Homo sapiens: one gene and its partners. The protein of the gene in region 3 purifies or fractionates together with the protein of the main gene of each other region. This does not show direct contact. Each region holds a gene or a part of one and is shown on either strand. Other genes may lie near its edges. The genes, in order: EDEM3, PLXNA2, OS9, TTC17, ATF6B, GALNT18 and SORL1.

Evidence for each region.
Region 1: the proteins of OS9 (region 3) and EDEM3 purify together in Homo sapiens (affinity purification with western blotting; 2 studies listed by BioGRID and IntAct, with this or other methods). This does not show direct contact.
Region 2: the proteins of OS9 (region 3) and PLXNA2 purify together in Homo sapiens (affinity purification with mass spectrometry; 2 studies listed by BioGRID and IntAct, with this or other methods). This does not show direct contact.
Region 4: the proteins of OS9 (region 3) and TTC17 purify together in Homo sapiens (affinity purification with mass spectrometry; 2 studies listed by BioGRID and IntAct, with this or other methods). This does not show direct contact.
Region 5: the proteins of OS9 (region 3) and ATF6B purify together in Homo sapiens (affinity purification with mass spectrometry; 2 studies listed by BioGRID and IntAct, with this or other methods). This does not show direct contact.
Region 6: the proteins of OS9 (region 3) and GALNT18 purify together in Homo sapiens (affinity purification with mass spectrometry; 2 studies listed by BioGRID and IntAct, with this or other methods). This does not show direct contact.
Region 7: the proteins of OS9 (region 3) and SORL1 purify together in Homo sapiens (affinity purification with mass spectrometry; 2 studies listed by BioGRID and IntAct, with this or other methods). This does not show direct contact.

The regions. Positions count from the first base shown.
Region 1 is NC_000001.11:184,702,859-184,706,358, forward strand, and holds part of EDEM3 (ER degradation-enhancing alpha-mannosidase-like protein 3 isoform 2 precursor), read right to left. Parts: intron 139-3,500; coding exon 1-138. UniProt on the Homo sapiens protein: Involved in endoplasmic reticulum-associated degradation (ERAD). Accelerates the glycoprotein ERAD by proteasomes, by catalyzing mannose trimming from Man8GlcNAc2 to Man7GlcNAc2 in the N-glycans.
Region 2 is NC_000001.11:208,213,385-208,216,884, reverse strand, and holds part of PLXNA2 (plexin-A2 precursor), read left to right. Parts: coding exon 1-150; intron 151-166; exon of another isoform or gene 167-250; intron 251-3,500. UniProt on the Homo sapiens protein: Coreceptor for SEMA3A and SEMA6A. Necessary for signaling by SEMA6A and class 3 semaphorins and subsequent remodeling of the cytoskeleton. Plays a role in axon guidance, invasive growth and cell migration.
Region 3 is NC_000012.12:57,714,632-57,718,131, forward strand, and holds part of OS9 (protein OS-9 isoform 1 precursor), read left to right. Parts: intron 1-1,128; coding exon 1,129-1,339; intron 1,340-1,457; coding exon of another isoform or gene 1,458-1,460; coding exon 1,461-1,562; intron 1,563-1,780; coding exon 1,781-1,881; intron 1,882-2,061; coding exon 2,062-2,113; intron 2,114-3,238; coding exon 3,239-3,327; intron 3,328-3,500. UniProt on the Homo sapiens protein: Lectin component of the HRD1 complex, which functions in endoplasmic reticulum (ER) quality control and ER-associated degradation (ERAD).
Region 4 is NC_000011.10:43,407,420-43,410,919, forward strand, and holds part of TTC17 (tetratricopeptide repeat protein 17 isoform 1 precursor), read left to right. Parts: coding exon 1-158; intron 159-3,500. UniProt on the Homo sapiens protein: Plays a role in primary ciliogenesis by modulating actin polymerization.
Region 5 is NC_000006.12:32,121,747-32,125,246, reverse strand, and holds part of ATF6B (cyclic AMP-dependent transcription factor ATF-6 beta), read left to right. Parts: intron 1-3,500.
Region 6 is NC_000011.10:11,615,506-11,619,005, reverse strand, and holds part of GALNT18 (polypeptide N-acetylgalactosaminyltransferase 18), read left to right. Parts: intron 1-3,500. UniProt on the Homo sapiens protein: Catalyzes the initial reaction in O-linked oligosaccharide biosynthesis, the transfer of an N-acetyl-D-galactosamine (GalNAc) residue from UDP-GalNAc to a serine or threonine residue on the protein receptor.
Region 7 is NC_000011.10:121,630,314-121,634,263, reverse strand, and holds the end of SORL1 (sortilin-related receptor preproprotein), read right to left. Parts: 3' UTR 501-3,950; downstream 1-500. UniProt on the Homo sapiens protein: Sorting receptor that directs several proteins to their correct location within the cell. Along with AP-1 complex, involved Golgi apparatus - endosome sorting.

The DNA of each region.
Region 1 (3,500 bases), on a different chromosome or scaffold from region 3:
CCCGGATGGCATCCAGTATGATACTTCCTTCTTTGCTGAATAAGAACAGCATGGGGATCTTGATGTCATCTGTATCCTTTCCATCACCTGCCATCTGGAACAGAGGGGCAGTATCACTGCTGCTCCCCTCATTGTCATCTAGCCAGAAAATAAATACAGCAAACATCAAAATATCCAGCCATTAAAAAGATCTATCTACTAATTGTTACTGATTTTTTACAATGACAGAATTAATTTTATGCATCAAGAACCATAAAAACCAACATAATTTTTGGACCCATTAATTCTCATAGAAACGTATCCAAAGGAAATAATTCAAAAGTAGCGAAAAGCCCTATGCCCAAATAATTTTACTAGACTATTTATAATTGTAAACAACTGTACACCATTATAAGTAAATTATAATGACCTACTTGATAGGACACACAGAATAATAATACATTTAAAAAGTAGAATACAGAATTCTATGATTATGACTATAAAAATTTCATATGCTTATGGAAAAGCCTAGAAAGGAAAAAATCAATGACTCGGATTACAGTGATAGAACTATGAATGAATTTTATTGTTGAAAATTTCCACTACTGGCATGATTACATTGTTTTACCAAACTAAAAATGGACATTTCTTTTTTATATAATGCACACAAAGAATAGTTATGACTATAGTGCTTCTTCCTCTATAAGCTAAACTAAACAGTATTGCTATTTTGCATTGGTTAAATAATAGTAGTAGAACTATTAATAGTAGTAGTACCAGCAACATGCTGTTTTACTGAAGACGACAATCACGACCACCTCCAAATCGCATGCCAGTCTCCCAGAAGAAACTATCTGTCCTGTCTCAGGGTGCTCACTCTCATAGGACCTGCTAAGTGCAGAATGCATGACCCATCCTCTTGGTAATAATTGATTAGACAAAAGATGGCTACCTGACCCTGAGTCTCTCTGGGGGACCTGGAACTGGCACACAGAAAGACTGTTTCAGTTAGCAGGGGGTAATAGTCCAGTTGAATGACACAGACTTAGGGGCTGAGGCTGCAAACTAGAATGGCCATTTTGGAACTGAGGAACAAAGAGAGAGAAGGCTGGTGAGAAGCTGGAAAATGAAGCAGAATTGCAAAGAGAAGCAGGGAAGAAAAGTTCAGAAGGACCCAGAGGTAGAGATACAGAGAGAAAAGTGAAAAACATTCACTATCATGGATCCTGGTGATTTTTAGTTCCCACTTCTACCTCCTGGTGAATCCTAGTTGTATTTGTACTGTTTAATTCACTAAAAATAATCCATTTCTGTGTAGTGAAAAAACCTCCCTTCTTAAACCAACGTAATTATCTCCTGCAGCCACATGATTTCTAAGATAATTCGTATTTCTAACCCTTGCAACAAAAAACAGCTAATTCCTAATTTATTCATTTATATACAATTAAAACAAAAACAAAATGCTTTGTCAGAAACAAAAAACTCAGGAGAAAGAAGTCAACACAAGAAAGTTTCTCATTAAAAATTAAATTTTTGGCTGGGTGCGGTGGCTCATGGCTGTAATCCCAGCACTTTTGGAGGCCAAGGCAGACCACTTGAGGCCATGAGTTTGAGACCAACTTGGCCAACACAGCGAAACCCCTTCTCTACTAAAAATACAAAAATTAGCCAGGCTTGGTGGCACGTGCCTGTAATCCCAGCTACTCAGGAGGCTGAGGCATAAGACCTACTTAAACCTAGAGGTGGAGGTTGTAGTGAGCCAAGATCATGCCACTGCACTCTAGCCTGGGTGACAAAGCAAGACTCTGTCTCAAAAAAAAAAAAAAAAAAAAAAAAAAAAAAATTTCTGAGAGTAAGGATCATCATCTCTTATTTATTTATCCACAGAACCCAGTATACCATTTTCCAACTAATAGCTACCAAAAAAAACATTTGACGGGCCAGGCTTGGTGGCTCATGACTGTAATCCCAGCACTGTGGGAGGCCAAGGCAGGCAGAACACCTGAGGTCAGGCGTTCAAGACCAGCCTGGCCAACATGGAGAAACCCCATCTCTACTAAAAAGAAAAAAATATATATAAAAATTAGCCAGGCGTGGTGGCAGGCACCTGTAATCCCAGCTACTCGGGAGACTGAGGCAGGGAGAATTGCTTGAACCTGAGAGATGGAGGTTGCAGTGAGCCAAGATCACGCCACTGCATTCCAACCTGGGTGACAGAGCAAGACACCATCTCAAAACAAACAAAACAAAAATTGACAATTATTGCATACTATAGAAGATCATGAGAATTAGACTTCACTGAAAAATATAAAAAACCAAAATACTACACAAAGAAATATTTTTAAACATTAATGCATAAATTCTACACTTTATACTTTACATTTTCATTTTGAAGTCTTGGTAAGAACTGTTCAAAATGATAGTGATGGTTAATATAATAAATTCTGCAATAAAACTAATCTAAGTGTGGGAAATACCCAAGGATAAAGAGCATGATTTAAGTCAGGGGTCGGCAAATCTCTTCTGTAACTGGCTAGATGATGAATAAATATTTCAGGCTTTGTAGTTCTCTCCTGTAAGTACTCAACTCCATCACTGCAGTTCAAAGCAGTCATAGACCATACACAAACAAATTGGCATGACTGTGTCCCAATAAAACTTTTATTTACAAAAATGGGCAATGAGCTGGATTTGGCCTATAGTCTTGTAGTTTGCCAACTGCTGATTTAAGTCATTAAACAGGACTTCTCCTAATGTTTATTAATAAAATTTATGCATCCATTAAATCAACATAATAAGTGTTAATATTCTGTTTTACCTGAACTATTTTTTTTTATTTACCTTAACTATTGGGCGGCAGGGGAGGGGGGAATCCAAAATGGATTTCCCTGTGAGAGAAGCTGTACAAAAGAACTCACAATCAGCATATTGTGAGCCCAGGTCTTACAGTTCTTTCTGAATGTAAACTCCTATTTACTTTAAAACAGAAAAATTTATATTTCCCCTAATAGTCATGGCCTGTTTATCATGATATAAGTGATTGTCTATGAAAGATAAAAAAGCAAAACCCACTAGTTGATACATATAGGTAAGATGATTTAAAGGTGGTAACTTGTCATTTCGGTAGAAAAAGATCCAAGGGGATAAAGATCTGCTAGCAATACTGTAAACCCTGTTATAGTAGCACTTATCCTATGTCTGCTATTATGCCAAGAAATTTTATATATCTTTAAACCTTACAATCACCTAAAATATATTTATTATCACTTCCACTGGAGCTCAAAAATATTCTACTATCAAATAAAAAAAAATTATACTATTTAATCTACAGATTAAAAAACTGAAGCTAGGCCAAGGTTACACTGCAATTTTGTGGTAGAGCCAGGAACTGTACTCTCATGTGTCTGCCTCCAAAGCCTGCATCTTTGTGGAGTAATGGAAATTTTCAATGGCTCCCCACTGGACGTGGCACAGTGTAATTCTTGCCCTTCGGGGGTTATGGATCTCATGGGCACCTTTTC
Region 2 (3,500 bases), on a different chromosome or scaffold from region 3:
CACCACCCGCCCGATGACTCTGCCCTGTGTGCCTTCCCTATCCGGGCCATCAACTTGCAGATCAAGGAGCGCCTGCAGTCCTGCTACCAGGGCGAGGGCAACCTGGAGCTCAACTGGCTGCTGGGGAAGGACGTCCAGTGCACCAAGGCGGTAAGGAGGCACACACCTCGCTCTGCTCCTGCTCCATGACACAGGTTCCAACCTTCCTGTCCATGCCCTGGGGCACATCTGCTCCCACACCACCATGGACCTGAAATGAAAGAGGTTTTCAGACTCAGGTTATCAGGTGGTAACCAATAACGCAGGGTCTTACGTACACCAGATACTTGAGATATGTGTGTTGATTTGTTGTCATTTCAAATATATGTATTGAGTGCCTACATCACATCAGGTGCTATTGTAAATGCTGCAGGCTTCAGCTGTGAACCATACAACCCTACAAAGCTCACTGCCCTCATGGAGATTACACGCTAGTTGGGTGAGACAAATGAACACATAATACATGTTAGTTTGCCAAATGGTGATAATGGCTATAGAGAAAAATAAACAGGAAAGGGGGAGAGGCAGTAGCTGAGAGGACTGACTCATTGAGAAAGTGGTGTCTAAGCAAAAACTGAGGATGGGAAGAAAGGGAGCCACACAAGTGTCCAGAGAAAGCATTCCAGAGAGAGAAAGGGTGAGGAGAATGTGCAAAGAATTCAGGGCATGCCTGGAGTGTCTGAGGAACAGTAAGGAGGCAACTGCAGCCAGATCAGAGTATGTGAGAGAAAGAGCAGCAGGTGATGGGGTCCATCAGAAGTAATGGGGACCAGGTCATGTACACACAGAGCTGTAGGCCACTGTGGTTCCCAGTGAGGGGGTCAAGTGGAGATCAGAAATCTAAGTCAGAGGAGAGGGAAGGGAGTCTGGCTTGACCAACTGATGGAAAACTGGAGAAGAATCAGGAGTGTGGGCAAAGGCAAAAGAGGAGAGGATGAAAAGCTCAGAATCCAGACCTGAGGAAAGCAGAGACAAGAAAATCAGTGGCAAGCACTGCCCTGTCAGCGGCTCATGGTGCTGCCATCAAAGTATTCATGATCCACTCTTCTTCCATCATTCATCCAACCATCCAATCATCCATTCATTTATCCACCCATCTCTCCTTTCATCCATCCCCTTTCCTTCCCTCCTTTTATTCTCCTATCCATCTATCCCTCCATCCTCCTTAGCTCTCTCCCTCCATGCATCTCTCCATCCATCCATCCATCCATCATCCATCCATCCATCTATTCACCTATTTACCTAAACCTCCATTCATCTGTCCCTGATCCTTCCCTTCATTCTTTCCTCCATCCCTTCCTCCATCCCTTCATCCATCTCTTTATCCACTCATCCCTCTTTTTTCTCCCTTAATCTATGTCTCCATATCTTTATCTATCCATCATCCATTTGTCTACCTAGCCCTCCATCTATCCATTCATCCCTCTCTTTATTCATCCACCATCATCCATCTACCCATCCCTCTATTCATTTACAAGTAGTATTGAAGATCTTCTGAATGCCTGGCACTGTACTAGGCACTGGGGTTGCAAACATAAAAAGACATGATCGGCTGGGTGCGGTGGCTCACACCTGTACTCCCAGCACTTTGGCAGGCTAAGGTAGGCAGATTGCTTGAGCTCAGGAGTTCGAGACCAGCCTGGGCAACATGACAAAACTCCGTCTCTACAAAAATTCCAAAAATTAGCTGGGTGTGGTGATGCACACCTGTAGTACCAGCTACTCTGGAGGCCTGAGCATGGGAGGTGGAGGTTGCAGTGAGCCAAGATTGTGCTACTATACTCCAGCCTGGGTGACAGAGTGAGACCCTGTCTCAGAAAAAAAAAAGACATGATCACTAGTCTCACAGATCTTATAATCTAGTAGGGGGAAGAGAGAGAGAGAGAGGAAGAGAGAGAGAGCTAGAGACAGCTGGCAACATAATGTAGTGGCTCAGAGTTTGAGGTTCTGAGACAAAAGCCAGGCTTCAAATTCCATCTGTGTTTCTTCCTGCCTTCTTCAGAAGCACCTTAGCATCTCTACATTCTTATCTGTGAGATGGAAATAATAATGCCTAGCTCATGGGATGATCAGATGAGATAATACATGGAGAGATTAGCACCATGCCTGGAAATGTTAGGTTTATTATTACACAGGGAGTTAACAGGGAGTGTGAGAAGTGCAAAAGTAGGTTTCTTGTACACAGTGCTGAGGGCTCTGGATCTGCAACCTAGAAAAAAATATATGAGACCAAGGGGCCCATACGGCTACCTTCTGAGTACTCTAAATTGAAGGTGCCTGCCGTTGGGACCAAGCACCAGTACTTGAAGCAAGAAAACATCATTCCAAGGCTACGCTTCTATTCCTGTCATCATTTGCTTGGTGTGGTAGAAGAGTCGTGGTTAAGGCTTTGAAGTAAACCAGATGGGGATTAAAAATCAGTCCTACCACTTACTCCTTGTGTGACTTTGGGCAAGTTATGTACCTGGTCTGAGCTGTAAATTTTTCGTCTTTAAAATAGAGATAATATTGTCTTCTTTTCATGGTTATTATGAGGATCAAATGGAAAATTTATGTAAAGTGCTTAGCACAATACCTGGAACATAATAAGCATTCAATAAATGGGCCGCTATGATTATTAATATTAATCACAGTAGTAAAGAGCCAGCTATTTTCTTAGTTATCTTACTGTTGTAAAATGAGGAAGCTAGACTAGATAGTCTTTGGTTTTTTTTTTTTTAACGCCAAAATTTTATGGCCACTGGCCGTAACCAATGTGGAGAGGTGGAGAGGAAATGTAACCCTCCGTAAGGGTTAAATGCTTGCAGAGTCCAGCCTAGTTCCCATAACCCAGAGGGGGCCTTGTCAGGAGGAAACTGCTGATTCCTGCCTGCTTCTGAGCCAGAGGAAAGAGGAAGATGACACTCTTCTCTGCTCCAGAGCAGAGGGACAAGCCTGGGCTAGTTACAAAAGGATAGCAAAGGCACTGGGAGAGAGGTGACAGTGAGTGGGGCCAGGACCTTAGAGTGGAGAGCCCCTTGCCTCCACCCCTTCAGCACCACACCCTTCTGGTGCAAGGGCTGCAAGAGGAATGGCCCCTTAAAGACCCTGATACTCCAAAGAACTAAGACCCAGGGACCCAGAAATATTTTGGTGGCCTTAGAGGGGAATAAGGATAAATGAAAGAAGCTGTGGTCCCAGAGCTTGATTTTAACATGACTCTGGAATAACATGGAAATCTCAGATCAAAAATTTGAGCTCTGATCCCAGAAAAGAGAGGAAGAAGGGGGCTATCACTCATTGAATAGCAGCTAGTCCTAAAGGCTAAGCTTGGCAATTTAAGTGTTATCTCACTTGCTCCTCACAATGACCCCATAAAGCAAGAGTTATCTTCCCCATTTTACAGATTAAAAAACAAAGGCTCACAAAGACTAAGTAAGTTGCTCAGATCTCCACAGCTATAAGTGATAAAGCGGGGATTT
Region 3 (3,500 bases):
CACACGGGTTGGAATGCAGTGTGGCATGATCATAGCTCACTGTAACTTTGAACTCCTGGGCTTAAGGGATCTTCCTGCCTCAGTCTCCCAAGTTGCTAAGACTACAGGTGCACACCACCACACCTCGCTAATTTTTAAAAATTTTTTGTGGAGATGAGTCTCACTATGTTGCCAAGGCTGGTCTTGAATTTTTGGCATCAAGCCATCCTCCTGCCTTGGCCTCCCAAAGTGTTGGGATTACAGGTGTGAACCACCAGCCTCTCTTACTTTTAATAGTTATTTTAGAAATTAGAATATTGCATGCTTAATTTATCAAAGGCCAATCAATCTCTTTACCCTCTTTCTGAATGATATAAGAATCTTAGAATTGTTTGAAGTTTTTTACCATATGCACATATATAAAAATTACATATTTATATACAAATATATATACACTTTAAAAAAAATACAGGCCAGGCCTTGTGGCTCATGCCTGTAACCCCAGCACTTTGGGAGGCCAAGGTGGGTGGATCACCTGAGGTCAGGAGTTCAAGACCAGCTGGGCTAACATGGTGAAACCCTGTCTCTACAAAAATACAAAAATTAGCCAGGCATGATGGCAGGTGCCTGTAATCCCAGCTCCTCGGGAGGCTGAGGCCGGAGAATCGCTTGAACCCAGGAGGCGGAGGTTGCAGTGAGCTGAGATCATGCCATTGCACTCCAGCCTGGATGACAGAGTGAGACTCCATCTCAAAAATAATAATAATAATAATAATACATATATGAAGCAAATAAAAGTATATATATACACACACACAATATTTATACAAAACAAGAATATGAAACATAAATTGGTTACCTACAGTTAAGCTGCCTGAATTCAGTTCCTGTTTTTACCACTTAAAGGCTGGTCAACCTGAACAAGTGCCTTAACTGCACCACACCTGTTTCTTGAGGCACGAAGTTGAGAAACCAATATCGCCTCACTGGGTCTTTGTGATAAGTGAGCCAATTTATGTAAAGTGCCATATGCACAGTGTATGCACAATGCTTGACAGATAATCAGTGCTTAGTAAAAGACACCTGCTCTAATAACTAAAGCAAATTATTGTTGGTGATTAAGTGTATTCATCCTTTCTGTCCTGGCAGTTCCTCTGTGACGAGGGTGCAGGTATCTCTGGGGACTACATCGATCGCGTGGACGAGCCCTTGTCCTGCTCTTATGTGCTGACCATTCGCACTCCTCGGCTCTGCCCCCACCCTCTCCTCCGGCCCCCACCCAGTGCTGCACCGCAGGCCATCCTCTGTCACCCTTCCCTACAGCCTGAGGAGTACATGGCCTACGTTCAGAGGCAAGCCGGTGAGTAATTAGAGAAGGAGGAGAAGACGGGGAGATACGGGGGCAGGGGGTGGCAAAAGATCAAGTATTGAATAGCTGGAGGAATGTGTTCCTGGCCTGCTTGCATGCTGTTTCTCAGTAGACTCAAAGCAGTATGGAGATAAAATCATAGAGGAGCTGCAAGATCTAGGCCCCCAAGTGTGGAGTGAGACCAAGTCTGGGGTGGCACCCCAAAAGATGGCAGGTAGGACCTTGTTTCACCTGTTCCGTGAAACTCACTTCCATTTCTTCCCTTCCCCTGATCTTACTGTCCTGACTGACTGGTGGGGTGGGGGGGGGTGGAAAAGTACCATGGGCCCTCCTCCCTTGGTGATAGAGGAGGGGAAGGGACCCCATCCTATTTGCTCCCTTCTGTCTCACCCCTCCTGTCAGATCAGTCTCTCCCTGTTCTCTGTACCCTAGGTGCGAGCCCGACCAAGGATGACAGTAAGGACTCAGATTTCTGGAAGATGCTTAATGAGCCAGAGGACCAGGCCCCAGGAGGGGAGGAGGTGCCGGCTGAGGTGAGACCAGCTGCCTCAGAGGAGCAGGATGGGGATGGGGAGGGTCACTGCAGCTGGGGCCATTGTGAGGTGACCTACATCTACCTAGGGATGCAAGGATATCCCCAGAACCTTTGCCTTCATAGTATGGAGGGCATGAACAGGCTTTCATACTTGACTCTCTCCTTTTCTCCTCGTCAGGAGCAGGACCCAAGCCCTGAGGCAGCAGATTCAGCTTCTGGTGCTCCCAATGGTGAGTGAACCTTCCATGTCTCCTTTACTGAATATATTTTAGGATTGGCAGGGGTAGGGATGGAGGGGAGAGCTAAGCCTGGGAGGGAGGTTGGGTAGCCAGGCCGGCAGAAAATTCATTTTTATAGGAGTTAATACTCTTTGTAGACAGCACTGCTATTTTAGCAAGGTGGCAGAACACAGTGGCTCCACCACTTGGTGACTTTGTAATTCACTTAACCTCAATTTTCTTACCCATAAAATGAGGGTAATAACCCCTACCTTAGAGGGTTGCATGGGATTAAATGAGAATGCATCCATAATTCACAGTAGAAGGCCTGGAACTGAATAAACTAAATGGTTAATATTTGTGGAAAGAGGAGAAGGGTTCCAGGGAAGACAAGCCCTTAGCCCCAGGATCTCCTCTGTAGTCCTAAAAGCTAGAGTGACTGCCAGAAGGGCCTCAGAAGTGCATGGAAGAGTGGGGACTTAGCAGCTTGTTAGCATCCATCTCTCCTACCAGAGTGTCCACCTTAGGATGGTGCTCTCTGCAGGCGAATATTTGCCCTTGTCTCACTGTCAAACAGGTAAATCCTAGAGGCAGGGACCATGTCCTTCCTTGGTCTCTCATTACCTGTCCTTAGGAATCCAGAGAGAATTTAGGAGCGCAGTAGCGCACACCTGTAATCCTAGTTACTTGGAAGGCTGATGCAGGAAGATTGCTTGAGCCCAGGAGTTCAAGATCATCTTGGGCAACATAGTAACACACCATGTTGAAAAAGAAAAAGAGCCGGGCGTGGTGGCTCATGCCTGTAATCCCAGCACTTTGGGAGGCTGAGGCAGGTGGATCACCTGAGGTCAAGAGTTCAAGACAAACCTGGCCAACATGGTGAAACCCCATCTCTACTAAAAATACAAAAATTAGCTGGGTGTGGTGGCAGGCGCCTGTAATCCCAGCTACTTGGGAGGCTGAGGCAGGAGAATCTCTTGAACCCGGGAGGCAGAGGTTGCAGTGAGCAGAGATTGCACCACTGTGCTCCAGCTTGGGTGACAGTGCAAGACTCTGTCTCAAAAAAAAAAAAAAAAAAAAAAAAAAAGAATTTAAACACAACAGAACAGGTTCATGATTATTATTCTTTCATCTCAGATTTTCAGAACAACGTGCAGGTCAAAGTCATTCGAAGCCCTGCGGATTTGATTCGATTCATAGAGGAGCTGAAAGGTGGAACAAAAAAGGTATAGGCCGTGCTTAGGGAATGGGTAGAACCCACCTCCCAACTGCGAGCATTTGAAAAACTACCCTGACCTGGGACTCAACTCCTGGGTCCCCCAGTACCACACACCTGCTACTGTTTGTCTGCCCCCGACCATGTGTCTCTGTTGAAACCCCAACTGTCTTTCTCCCCACT
Region 4 (3,500 bases), on a different chromosome or scaffold from region 3:
CTTTTGCTATTGCCTGTCTTCAGAGGGCTTTGAATTTAGCTCCACTTCAATACCAAGATGTTCCTCTTGTCAACTTGGCCAACCTTTTGATTCATTACGGCCTTCATCTTGATGCCACTAAGCTGCTACTTCAAGCTTTGGCCATCAATAGCTCTGAGGTGAGGTTTTAAGGGATTTCATAGTTCCGTATACTATGTAGGGTAACTCAAATTTAGATTACAATTTGTATTTTTCTAGGGAAAGCATAAAAAATGTCATGTTTTGTCTTTCACAGTAGCGTTTGCATTATTTCAAGAGAGTGTGAAAAAGCTTTTGTTGTATTTTGATGTGTTCTTTAAATTTTGAGTGAAATTTATAATTACACAGTTAAGTTTTTTTTTTTTTGGAAACTTACATTTAAATAAGAATAACATAAGCTGTAAAAATATACTGCCGCTTTTTTATGTCTGTCTGAAACATCTGGTTTGTATTTTATCCTACTCATCACAGCATGCACACTGCTTAATATTACACTGTTTTACAACTTTAATTTATAGAAATATTTATACCCTTCAAGCCAGAGGACAGTTCAAAGGTGGTTTTGATAAGAATAAATAGATACATTGATTTTCATGCCCCAAACCTCTCACATGCAGCTTATGGAGTTACATCAGTGCTTTGTAGTTCATGGTTTTGAAGATACAACTTTGGTTTTTCATATTTTAACATCTCTGATATCAGGATGGATGTTATAATTGCTGTCATTTTAGGTTTCATGAAATTCAGTTATAATAAATATACAATTAAATTGATTTTATACCTAATGTCTAAATGTTTATAGGTTTTGTATTCAAAGAAACCTTCAGAAGGGATGTGCATGAATGGTTGAGGTTTATTTATGGTGTCTGAAAACTGATTTTTTAAGGATGAGAAGAAAATATTGCCTGTTTTCTTTTGAAATACAGAAATTCACAACTGGATTTTAAGCAGAAGTTTACAATCTCAATATTATGTAACAGGTCACATTGCCAGAGAAGTACATCAAATATTTATCTAGTGCTTACTGTGTACCAGGTGCTGGTACAGTGGGAACAGATGTGATAAAGTGGGCAATGGAAAGCGCAATGCAGCCGTATTCCCTTGAAACTTTTCATGATTCCCTTTTTACTGTTTTCAGCCAAGGGACTTAGGTAGTATTCTTCTGAAGAAAAAAGACCTCCTTTAGTGATCAGTTACCTTTTGATATTTTAAAATCATACTAAAATTTTAGTTGTTAAATACCATGGTGCTACAATAAGAATAAAAAGATAAATTAATGGATCAGGGTGGGTACCCCAAAAATATACCTTTTTTTTTTCTTTGAGACAGGTTCTTGCTCTGTTGCCCAGGCTGGAGTGCAGTGGCGTGGTCACGGCTCACTGCAGCCTCCACCTCCTAGGCTCAAGTAGTGCACCCACCTCAGCCTCCCTAGTAGCTGGGACTACAGGCATGCACCACTGCGTATGGCTGAATTTTGTATTTTTTTGTAGAGATGGGGTTTCACCATGTTGCCAAGGCTGGTCTTGAACACCCGAGCTCAAGCAATCCTCCCATCTCAGCCTCCAAAAGTGATGGGATTACAGGCATGCACCACCACACCCGGCCCCAAAAATGTTCCTTAATCAGCACCCTCTTCCCAACTTTTGGAAATTTTTCCTTATAAGCATGTCTTCTATACAAATATTTCATAATGTTTCAACTCTACTGTACAGGTGATCTCTAAAAAACTTATTCCTACCTAATTTTAAAGCCCTCAATTTAAATGGTTGTATAAAGGACCAATGAATTGATATGCCACAACCTATTTTTCTGTTGCTGCATATTTAGGTTGCTAACAGTACTTAGCTATTATCAATGATGGTTTTCTGCAAAGGCCTTAAAGATTGTTAGCAGTGGAATTACTAAGTCAATAAGAGAATGAATATTTTGATGGCTCTGGCACAAAATACCAAACAACCCACTAAAATGGTTGGGCCAGTATATATTGCCATGAATAAGGTCTAAAAATATTAATTCCACCTGTGTCTTTATTAGAATTGAACAACTGAAATAACTGCCAATTTTTTTGATTGTTTACTAGAGCCAGGCACAATACTAAGCATCTTACATGTAGTAACTAATTTAATCCTCATAACAACCCTGTGAGATGGAATTTCCCCTTTGATAGATGAGGAAACTCTTAAGAGTTAAATGTACAGAGTAAGGGATTTATGGGAAGTCACAGAGCTTGGTGCTTGGTTTTGAACTCAGGGAGATTGGCCACAGGGCAAATACTCTAGTCGTGTTATACTACCTCTGAATTAACATTTATAAAACAAGTTTCGCTTGCTTAAAAATACCACCTCTCCGTTGTAACGTAAAGTTTTATCTTGTGGTTGTTTTTGTTTTTCTTTTTTCCTTTTTTCTTTTCTTTTTTTTTTTTGAGACAAAATCTTGCTCTGTCACCCAGGCTGTAGTGCAGTGACATGATCTCAGCTCACTGCAAGCTTCGCCACCCAGGTTCAAGCTCTTCTCGTGCCTCAGACTCTGGAGTAGTTGGGATTTCAGGTGCATACCACCATGCCCGGCTAATTTTTGTACTTTTAGTAGAAACAGGGTTGTATTTTAATAGAAACATGTTGGCCAGGCTGGTCTCAAACTCCTGACCTCAAGTGATCCGCCCGCCTTGACCTCCCAAAGTGCTGGGATTACAGGTGTGAGCCCTTATGCCCAACCTTGTAATTGTATTTTTAAAGTAAAAGTTTGTATACACATTTTGTTCATTTTAGAATTTTGTTTTTTAGATTTTGTGCAAACCCTTTGTATGATAAACTCTTTAACTCCATCTCTCATGTGTTAAAAATATTTTCTCTCTTTGCCTTTTTATCTTAGCATTTAAAAATTGCCCTTAAGTTTGCCAGTCTTTTCAATGTTGATTTCTATTGTTAGATTTCAAGTGTTCTCAATAAACTGTTTGTTTTTGTTTTCTATGGCTTAATCTTTGAATAGTTGGCTCTCAAATATATAAAGATCTTTTCCTGTGACGTCTCCTGGATATTTTATAGTTTTAGGCTTTACAATTAGGTCTATGATTCATTTCAAGTTAAATTTTCTTTGTAGTGTGAGGTAGGGATCAAAGTTCATATTTACACGGATATCCAGTTCTTCAGCTTCATATCTTGAGAAGACTGCCCTTTTCCTGTTGAATTACCCGTCACCTTTGCCCTGAACTCCAGACTCCTTTATTCAACAGCTTACTTGACATTTCCACTTAGATGTCTAAAGGGCGCTCTAGAACAAAAGGCCAAAACCAAACTCCTTAACGCTGTTCCAAATTTATTCTTCCCAGTCTTCCTCATTTCAGGAAATAATAAAGCTATCTTTCCAGTTGCTCAGACCAAAAACTTAGGGGCTTCCTTCATACCTTTCTCCTGTTCTCAGGGAAAATTCAGTCCACTGGCTAACCTTGTTGATTCTGTTTTCAAAATATACCTCAGATTTTA
Region 5 (3,500 bases), on a different chromosome or scaffold from region 3:
AGATGAACAAGACCTGACCACCATGCTGACTTTCAAACCCTGTGATTTGGTAATGGGAGAAAGACAAGTACCAGTCAATACAGGTGTGGTCATTCTAGGATAGAAATCACTAGAGGTGGGGCTGGGTGTGGTGGCTCATGCTTGTAATCCCAGCACTTTGGGAGGCCGAGGTGGGCGGATCACGAGGTCAGGAGATTGAGACCATCCTGGCTAAGATGGTGAAACCCCGTGTCTACTAAAAATACAAAAAATTAGCCTGTAGTCCCAGCTACTTGGGAGGCTGAGGCAGGAGAATGGCATGAACCCGGGAGGCGGAGCTTGCAGTGAGCCGAGATCACGCCACTGCACTCCATCCTGGGCAAAAGAGCAAGACTCCGTCTGGAAAAAAAAAAAAAATCACTAGAGGGTACCATGAAAGCTCATAAGAGGGGACATTTCATCCACATTGGCGCTGAATCTGGGATGTGCCCCTGGAAGAAGGGTTTCCTGAGAGTTTTAAAGGACACGTAGAAATTAGCCAGGAGGACAGTGTGGGGGTTGACTTGTGTCTGAGGACCCTGCATTTCTTCAGAGTGGATGTAAGAAGGATTTGGGGAGTGATGTGGAACTGCAGGGGCTACAGGGCCAGGTGGGGCCCCTGCTAAGGGGCTCTTAGCTTTTATCCTGTGGATAGGTGGGGGCCTTTGGAGAATTAAGCAGGGAAGTAATATGATTAGGAAGATGATTCTAGTGGCAAAGTAGAGAATGGGTTGCAGAGGGGCAGGGCCAGAGGCAAGAGAACCAAGGAAGAAGCTTATGCAGTTGATCAAGTAAGATATTCGGATGTCATGAAGAAAGCAGACTTGAGAAAGAATGAAGTGGAATAGATGAGTTGTGACCTCCTGGACATTGGAGAGAGGTAGGAGTCAAAGAGGTTTGTGGCTAGGATGGCTGTGGGTGGGTGATGTTACTGTTCACTGGATGGAGACTGCAAAAGCAGGGGCTTTCTGGTCAGGGAAGATGATGAATTCAGCGTTGGACATGTTGATTCTGTTGTTGTTGTTGTTATGGAGCTTCACTCTTGTTGCCCAGGCTGGAGTGCAATAGTGGTGTGATCTTGGCTCACTGTAATCTCTGCCTCCTGGGTTCAAGCGATTCTCCTGCCTCAGCCTCCTGAGTAGCTGGGATTACAGGCATGCTCCACCACGCCTGGCTAATTTTGTATTTTTAGTAGAGACAGGGCTTCTTTCATGTTAGGCTGGTCTTGAATTCCCGACCTCAGGTGATCCACCCACTTTGGCTCCCAAAGTGCTGGGATTACAGGCGTAAGCCACCATGCCCAGTTGACATGTTGATTGTTGATTTCAAAGTACCTTCTGGATCTCCTGGCACCATCTCTCACTGGCTGAACTCCAACCAGGGAGCCCGCTGATGCAGTCCATTCAGATTCTCCCTGGATCTCAGGGAGCACAGCAGGGAGGGATGGAAAGTGGATTTGGAGGGACAAACAGATTATATCTAGCAGATTAATACATGTTATAAAAAAGATACACAAAATAAGGATTGAAATACCATTAGCAGGCCAGGCACAGTGGTTCACACCTGTAATCCCAGCACTTTGGGAGGCCAAGGCGGGCAGATCACGAGGTCAGGAGATCAAGACCATTCGGGCTAACACAGTGAAGCGCCATCTCTACTAAAAATACAAAAAATTAGCCAGGCATGGTGGCAGGCACCTGTAGTCTCAGCTACTCGGGAGGCTGAGGCAGGAGAATGGGGTGAACCCGGGAGGCGGAGCTTGCAGTGAGCCGAGATCGCCCACTGCTATTAGCAGCAAAAGGATTGTAAGGATTGTTGGTGGCTTTGCATTGCATAGTGTTATTAGAGTCAGATTCTCCTCCATACTTAGGTATTTTTTGAGGGCCTGTACTTTACCCTCAATGGACATGAGACATAGTTCTTGCTTTTGGAGAGTTTTGTGAGGGTTATAATACATCATGGTTAAATAGTTCCCTTTTTTTTTTTTTTTTTTTTTTTTTTGAGACAGAGTTTTGCCCTGTCACCCAGGCTAGAGTGCATTGGCGTGATCTCCACTCACTGCAACCTCCGTTTCCTGGGTTTAAGCTATTGTCCTGCCTCAGCCCCCCTAATAGCTAGGACTACAGGCACGTGCCACCATGTCCGGCTATTTTTTTGTATTTTTGGTAGAGACAGGGTTTTGCCATGTTGTTCAGGCTGGTGTCAAACTCCTGGCTTCAAGCAATCCACCTGCGTTGGGTGTCGGCCTCCCAAAGTGCTGGGATTACAGGCGTGAGCCACCATGCCCAGCCATGGTTAAATAGTTCTGATAGTGGTTATCTCTGTGTAGGGAATCTGAGTGACTGGAGGACCGGGAAGGGAAGTTTTTTTTTTTTTTTTTTTTGAGACAGAGTCTCGCTCTACCCAGGCTGGAGTGCAGTGGCGCAATCTCGGCTCACTGCAAGCTCCGCCCCCTGGGTTCATGCCATTCTCCTCCCTCAGTCTCCCAAGTTGCTGGGACTACAGGCGTCCGCCACCACGCCTGGCTAATTTTTCTATTTTTTTAGTAGAGACGGGGTTTCACCGTGTTAGCCAGGATGGTCTCGATCTCCTGACCTCGTGATCCACCTGCCTCGGCCTCCCAAAGTGCTGGGATTACAGGCGTGAGCCACCGTGCCCCGCCAAGATTTTTTTTTTGACTTAATTTTCCTTTGTTCGTTTGGATTTGTATCATGACTGTATTATCTATTCAAAAATATAAATTGAAGTTTTAAAAAGCAATCTTAGTGATCATATAATTAAGTACCAAAGTGAACGGTATGGACCAGAGGTAGTGGTGGACTGTTGACCTGTGGGCTGAATCTGGCCCTCAGAAGGGTTTTATTTCACCGACATGGGGCCTAGCATTTTCTTTCATGGAGTGATCAACAAGTCATAAAGGCAGATTTATTGGAGGCCATGGAGGCTCAGAGGTGACTGAGGCTTTGCTGTTTGGTGCCTGGGAGGAAAACTTGTGTGACGGGGCAATCAGGAAGCCTCATTTATGGCCAGTTAGATTTGGGTGACTGGTGAGGCATGAGAATGGAAGGGACCAGCAGGCAGCTTGGAAGTCAGAATCTGGTGCAGGTGAGCAGCCAGGGGGAGATGCACACTTGGCGGTTGTCAGCATGGAGATGCATTGGGCAGGGATAAGGTGGAAATCCAGCAAGATAGGAATTTGGGCCATGTGAATGCTGGAGACCCCCCTGCCACTTCCCCTGCTCAGGCCTATTCTATGTGAATAGACAAGTTCTGTGAACAAGAAAGAGGGAAACGCAGAAGGGCAAAGACAGCTTTGAGGAACATGGAGCAGGGATGAGAAAAATCAGAGGAGCCACTAAAGGAGAAAGGGAAGCACTAGGCGAAAAGCGGGGCGGAGAGCCAGCAGGTGAGCAGCTCTGTGACTGCCCCTCCTGGATGGCCTGTAATCTAGGGCCAGAAGAGTTTTATTTTCAGGTTCAAAG
Region 6 (3,500 bases), on a different chromosome or scaffold from region 3:
AAGTGCAGCTCTCTGAAGGCAGAGGGTGGTAAAGGACAATAAGATCAAGCTCTTGTGCTTGATGGTACAAGCTGTTTATGTGTAACCCACTGTCAAGTTCCCTCTAGTCAGCATAGCCCTTTGAACAATCCAGTTTACTTTGCTGAACTGGAGGGAATAAGCGGTAATAATAATAAGAGCTAAAATAACATAGCACCTAGGATATGTCAGGCCCTATTCTAAACACTTTACATATATTGACTTATTTAATCTTCACAACCTTATGAAGTAGGTAATATTTGCTCCATTTTACAGATATGGAAACTGAGGCAGGGAGAGGGTATATGATTTGTCCAGGGTCACACACTGGTATATGATAGTATAGGGATGTAAGCTCAGCTAGTGTGGCTTCAGAAGTCTAAGTTCTTACCCACGTACTAAACTGTCTCCCAGGAGGGCCCCAGGGTCCCTTGGAGTCTGTTGACAGTGGTGGAAGTGGGTGTCAGAGGATGGCTGAGGGGTGAGGGAGTCAGCAGCCTTCCCACTTGGAAACTCCATAGATAAACTCAGGTTTTGCTTTGTTTCATGCCAAGAGGCAGAGGTTCCAGTCCTTTAACTAATGTTTACTGAACATGCAGGACAGTCCCTGGCACATTCTGCAGAAAGTAGCTGTGGGGTGGAAGCGTGGATGAATGGATGAGTGCTGATGCCTATGGCCACGTTGGTTATTAATGAAAGTGTTACCACTCTCCAAAAAAGGTGTTTTGCTTTGGAGTCTTGTCCAGGCTCCTCTTTTTGTTAGAAGGAAAGTCTCCTTGAAGCTGCAAATGTCACAAAATGTTCTGCAGGATGTTCCATAGGACTTGCAATTAGAAGAGGCTTTGGAGCATCACCCCAGAGGTCTGTTCTAGTCATGACTGAAAAGTTTATTTTCGTCTTGGGAGTTGCAGTGATATTTCATTTTAATTTGTTTTCTGATTGAATGATTTAATTAGATGGTGTTTGGGAATCTCTTGGGAATGTAAATTGCAGTTTTGGGAAGTTTTTTGACCAAATAGACGTTAAATGAGAGGGTGGATAACTTATGAGTTTTTAAAAAAAGCATCCTGGGGGTTTAGAAACACAAAGTAAATGTTAGTAAGGGTCAGGTTCTCTCCATCTTAGGAGTAGAAAGATCTGATGGCTTGACACGGTGAGGCGGATGAAGCAAGAATCTGCTAAAGGAGTTCTCAGTGTTGGAGAGTGCAGGAAATGGAAATGTTGATTCAGTTCTTATTTTGGAAATTCAGTAAAAATAAAGATAGCTTTCTTCTTTTCTTAGTAGCTTTCTGAATATGGAAAAGAATGTGCCAATGTTTAAGAAAATATTTAAAAATGCATAAAATTGCCCATAATTCATTCTACCCTAAAAATCAGTTTGCATTTTGAGCATTTCCTTCTGGATTTGTTCATTTGCCTCCATATTTCAAAATGAAGGTGTAGTCATGATTTACATGTAATTTTATATTCTGCTTTGTTCACTTTCTTTTTGTTAACGAAGCACTATTTTTTCCATATTTGCTACATAGTTTATTGGTTTAACATTTATCTGTTGGAGACCTAATGTGTGCCAGACACTGCACTGAGAAAGTGATTACAGTGGTGAACTGTATACTAGAGACACTCTACAGGAGTATGGGCACTCTTGGTCCTTGTCATAGCGGACTTGTTTTCAAAGGACAAAGAATCCCTTTTAGTCAACGTGGTCAGGGCTTGAGTTAGTTAATAGAAAAATTGGTTAAAGAGGAGAGTACAACAAAGTATTACATACATACAATTAAATATTTTTATTTTAATGTTTTCCAAAATGTACATTCATTTGCTAGACTTTTGATATCAGGCCAAAGTTCTGTCTTTGGGATGCATCTGCCAATTGGCGTCCTGTTCATCTTCCTTGCACAAACCACTCCCATAATATCCCATAGTTCTGTTTTCTTTAAAATTCATTGGAAACTTAAAGGTGCTTATGAAGCAGTCTCAGTGTAGTAGCCTAAATTGTTACGATTTTTGTCTGATCTTTTGCAATGATTTTGCTCACATGTAATTTGATTGCTATTCTTTAACTGACTACCGTTTATAAAACCTTTGCAAAGCACTTAGAACTTAAAGTAATTTTCTTAGAAACAACACTCATCTTTTTAGCCGTCATATTTCATTGGTTTATATAATACGTGATTAGGTTATGCCGTTACAGTGACAAGTACAAATAGTGTAAACACGTTTGAGAACAAACCCAGTGGACCACTGGTAAGTGTAAAACTCAACTATTTGCAGGAGCTGTGGGCAGTGGTACTAGAGACAAATAGGGTTTGTTACAGAGGGAATGGCAAGCATAGTTAATCTGGAGAATTGATTAAATGGAGAGTTTCTAAAGAGAACTTTTACTGTATTTTTAATGACTGCATAGTATTCTGTCATCAGTATACTATTATTGATTCAACCACTTTCCTATTATTGGACATTTGTTTTGCTATTATAATTAGAGCAGAAATGAACATCTTCACCTCACTGTTTTTTGAATTATGTTTAAGGATGTCTTTCCAGAAGTGGGATTAGTACTGACTCAAAGAGTCTGAACATTTTTATGAAAGATTGTTTTTTCAGAAGGAAAGGCTTTCTTTACAGCCACCAACAGTGTCTTATTGTACCAAAGTCATGGAGCCTGGCCAGCATTGGGTGTTATCATTCAAATTTTTCCGAGTAAATGTAATCCCTGTCAAATGCTCTATTCTTTTGATTTGTACTCCTTTGATTACTCTAGAACTTAATATCCTCCCCCACCCCTGGTATTTGTTTTATCTTGTGGGACTATTTGTGTCCTTGCTTATTGTTCTCTAAGACTATCAGTGTTTGGCCAGGCGTGGTGGCTTATACCTATAATCCCAGCACTTTAGGAGGCCAAGGTGGGAGGATCACTTGAGCCCAGGAGTTCAAGACCAACCTGGACAACATGGTGAGACCCCCATCTCTACAAAGAAAAAAAGAAGAAGAAGAAGAAGAAAAAAAGACTCAGTGTTTGTGATTTGTGTATTTTACAAATTTTTTTGATACATAAATATTTTGCCTGTATTATATGTTACATACATAATTTTAATTTTACATAGATGCCTTAGGGCAGTGGTTTTCAAACTGTGTACCCAGGAGACCTAAACTTGTAGAAGGTTTGATCTGGGGCCTGAGAATTAAAAGGGTTAAGTGGGGTCTCCCAGACTCTGCCTGTAGGTGCTCCCTCCCCTCCCTGCAAACAACAAAACTCCACTGTCTTCTGTTTTCTATTTGGCATTCTATAAAATATTTCATTTTATAAAAAGTTGTACTTCTTTAAAAAAAAAGTTGAAAATAACTGTTTCAGGAAAAGAGGAAAGATCAGACTGTTACATTTTTGTGAGGGATGATGGTGGTATAAACAAATTCAGGAGAGTAAATAAATCTAAAAGGAAATTGAATTTCTGGGTGGTGTTCTTGTAACATCTATTTACCCT
Region 7 (3,950 bases), on a different chromosome or scaffold from region 3:
GGCTCTGGCTCAGTGTCTAAACAAAAGCAGCATACCAGAAGACCTGTTAAATTCTTAAAAACCTGCCTCCCTCCCCCACCCAGTTCCACAGCCTCCAATCCTGACTTACAGGCCCATGGCCATTCAGCTGCCCATAATAGGTACACGCAGCACTCCTCACAAGACTGTCTATGGAAACCCATAGAAGTGCTCTTAGACACACAGCTCATCTATACTGCTGTGCTTCCGTCTCTTAGATTTGAAAATTGCCTTCTTAGCAAACTGTCTCTTAGCAAATGTAGTTACAAATTTAAGGGAGCCACTTTAGTCATTGTCCCTACGGAATAATTCTGTTTACTTCAAAACAGCCAGCACATCTTCCCCCTCCTCAACCAACACAAAGACATCGTGTTCTTCAAGGATCCACCATCTGAGACCAGCTTGTTAATAACAAAATTATTCCAGGCCTTGGTGTTCTCTCATCTATGAAATAAACATCCGTTTAAAACAGACCAATCAAATGGGGTTTGGAGACTGCGTCAGCCATCTTTATTGCGCTCTAAAGAACAGCTCGAGACACACAGAGACAGTGGATTTTCAAAGAGGTGTTTTCTTGACCCAGTTAAATTTTTATTCAGTGAAAAAAGTTGACATTGAGACAAAAATTATCTTAAAGTTGTGCAACAATACAGTAAAACCTTCAGCAGATTTCAGTGACTTGGAAACTTATCGAGGCAATTGAAATTATAAATACTTAATTTCGCTTTGGAGAGAAACAAGTATACAGTGTTTCACTTTAAATAAGAGTAGAATAGGCCTTTATTTTGCCGCAAATACTTTTGATTTTGCCTAAAGTTTCTAATAGTTCATAACAAGAGTCTTTAAATGAGAAGTGACATAGAATATTTGAGGATAATGGTCCACTCCAGCATTCATGCTTATTCCATTTGAGCTATTACACATGAAACTCATACCATTCTTGGGTTATTACTTGGCTGTGACGATTTAATTCATAATATGGCTGCTCAAAATTAGTGGGCAGAAACATACATACAACCCATCCTCCCTCAACCCATTTTCGGTGCTGGTACTCCATCTGAAAACACACTTACTGTCCATGTACCCAGCAGTACATATCTCTTCCTATCTATTCCATATCTCAGTCTTGCATAGAAAGTAGTCTATATAAACTTAATGCACTGGCTTTTATTACACAAAAATTGTACCTGAAAGGCAGCACACACTCCAGTTAAGAAAAATAACACAACAGGAATGTCAAGATACAATCCCAACACAAGATTCTGCACAGAGTTTTAGAGTCAATTCCTAAAATCAATATGGGATGATATTCAGTTTAGTTATGTCTCTGGATGCCTTCTCTAAGGGACTCATCCAACTGTCTGCAGAAGGAAGAAAATTTTCAGGAATTCCCCATGACTCCCTTCATGAAGAAGGGACTGACCAAACCTGATAGGATGGTGTTTCTGCCCTAAGGAAGTGTACTGGAAATATAATCTTACTAGATGCAGTGACCACTTGGTAAGCATCTGAAGGCAGCATTCGCCAAGAAGGAGTAGGCGCTCATCTCTAAGGGGCTCACCATACTATTGCTCTCCCAAGCTTCCCCTGAAAATGGCCAGTTCTGAGAAGGGTTACATTCCCTAAATTGCTGAGTACAGCTTCATCTAGTGGGCCAAACATGATGGGCAGGAGAGAACAGGCAGCTGTGTGTCTTCTGTCTGTCCCACCCAAATATCCCTGGTGATGCTACCAAAGACAGAACCCCAGGAATTACTTGTCCAAAAGTCAGAGTTTCAACCAGTTACCCAGAATGATAACTATTTACCCAGCTTGTCAAGGTAGCCAGTAGTTCCTGGAGCTTCTCACCTGTCTGGAACTAGGACTGCACAGACATGGCCTCTTCCTGGAATCCTCTGTAGAACTCCACTCTCTAACATTTTATCCATGTGGACTCGTATCTCATAAAGCTCAAGGGGCATTCAATACATCCAGGAGTAAAATCGGTTTCCAGAGAAAACTCATAAGCAAACCCCCTGCCCACCAATTTTTAGAGGCCCATCGTGGTCCACATGGATGCAAGCATCTGACATTCTAATGTATGCCAGGAGAGAATAAAACCTTTTTCCTGCACAGTGTGAACTTCTGAGGTGGCATCTCCAACAAGGTACAAAAGCCCCTTCTTCACAAGCAAGCAGGGACTCCGATTGGTCACAGTGAAGACAGTTATGTGGTCACCTTCAGAGGCTGCCTGTAGTACAAGGCATTTGTTTTCATTTTCTATTGGCACTCCAACCTCTGGATTCTTTCAGACAGCATATATACATGAAATCCCCACAAAGCTACACAGAGGGAAACAGGAGTGTGTGCTTCAAAAGTTCATAAAAATATACAATTTACATATAGCTGCAGCTATCTAGCTTAGTCTTCAGGAACTTAGCTCTTCTGTTTATATAAAATACTCTAGCCCTAAAAGGCTGCTTTTTTTCAAACAGCACAGTGGCATTTTCCAAGGAGAGGGGTGATGGCCAGTCTACAGTACTGTGCACTAAGCATTGGGAGGCACTGGTAGCTAGAACCGGATGCTCGGAAATATCTCAAGCTGCCAACTGGAGACATATGCTCTGTAAAAAGGCTTGCCTATGGAATAACTGAAAATAACATCTCAGAGCCTTTTATATCAGCTTTTACAAATGCCACCAAAAAGTTGGCAGAAAAAGAAAAGAAAATACACTTCCTAGTGGTTCAATTAAATGACTTGCCTCCCACCAGGTTGTTAATGATTCAACTATTTAAAGAGCTTATTAAAGGGGAGGTGGTAGGGCTTAGAGTTTTGAACAAATCTCTACGGTAAGACAAGATAAAGCCAAAAAAAATTCCAGTCTTTAAAAAAAAAAACTTAGGAAAGTGACAGGAAAGAAGAGAAAATACGCTAGAAGAAGGCTTATCATTACCACCAGTTGTTAACATGAAATACAGTCCTACCCGTATGGCAAACTAAAGGTCGACAGCTTAAAATACTCATCTAAGTATACATATAAATAAAAATTTCAAAAACTAAAAAATTTAATTGGCTCTTTCTTTGTTTTCTAAACAATCCCTAAGTAGAATGAAACTATATTATCACCCAAGAATGATACTTGTGGTTAAAAGAAACTAAACACTTGTGAGAAGGTGATGCCTCGCACCTAAGCGGGGATGGGGTTTTACAAAGCTTGCACGTCAAGGACACATATTCAGAGACATGACTTTGGAATATTCCCAGACCTCACTGCTTCTTGGCTGAAAGGAAATTCTTCAGTGAGAATCATACAGCACAAGTCACAACGATGCTCGACATTGGTGCCCACAACACTAAGCCTAAATAAAGGGCTTGCATCAGCCCACGATGGATTCTACATAAGTATCAAGTGGCCATGGTTTGAATACACGGGTGGCATTTTAAAGGCAGAAGAAAAAAAGCACAGCTTGTTTTACAGAGAGAATAAATGAACAAACTCTAGTGCTCCTGCTGTTGTTAACTGGATTGAGTAGTCTCAACTTTTTAGATCTTCTCTATCTCTATGAGAATGTACAGCACTGTCTCTTTAGATTGGGTGGGGGCATGGGTGAGGGAGATGGAAGAAGAGGAGAAAAAAAAAGAGAAGGCACTGTCCAATTCAAAATGACTGCATATATCAGTATGGATTTTTAAGGACAATAAGTGGCCATCTCAAACCAAATACATAATTTTACATCTGAGATCCTTCAGTAGTAAGTAAAAACAAAAAATGGAAAATGGAAAAATTATGTACTCTATTAGCCAGTGTATGGATCATGGCACAGATCTAGAACTCTCCCCCACAACCAGGGTAAGTTTTTGCAATGACAATGAAACCAGTGTGTAATAAAGCAGTGTTATCATTTTGTAGCTCTCAAAGCTACATCTTGTACAGAGGCACATACAGTAAAAT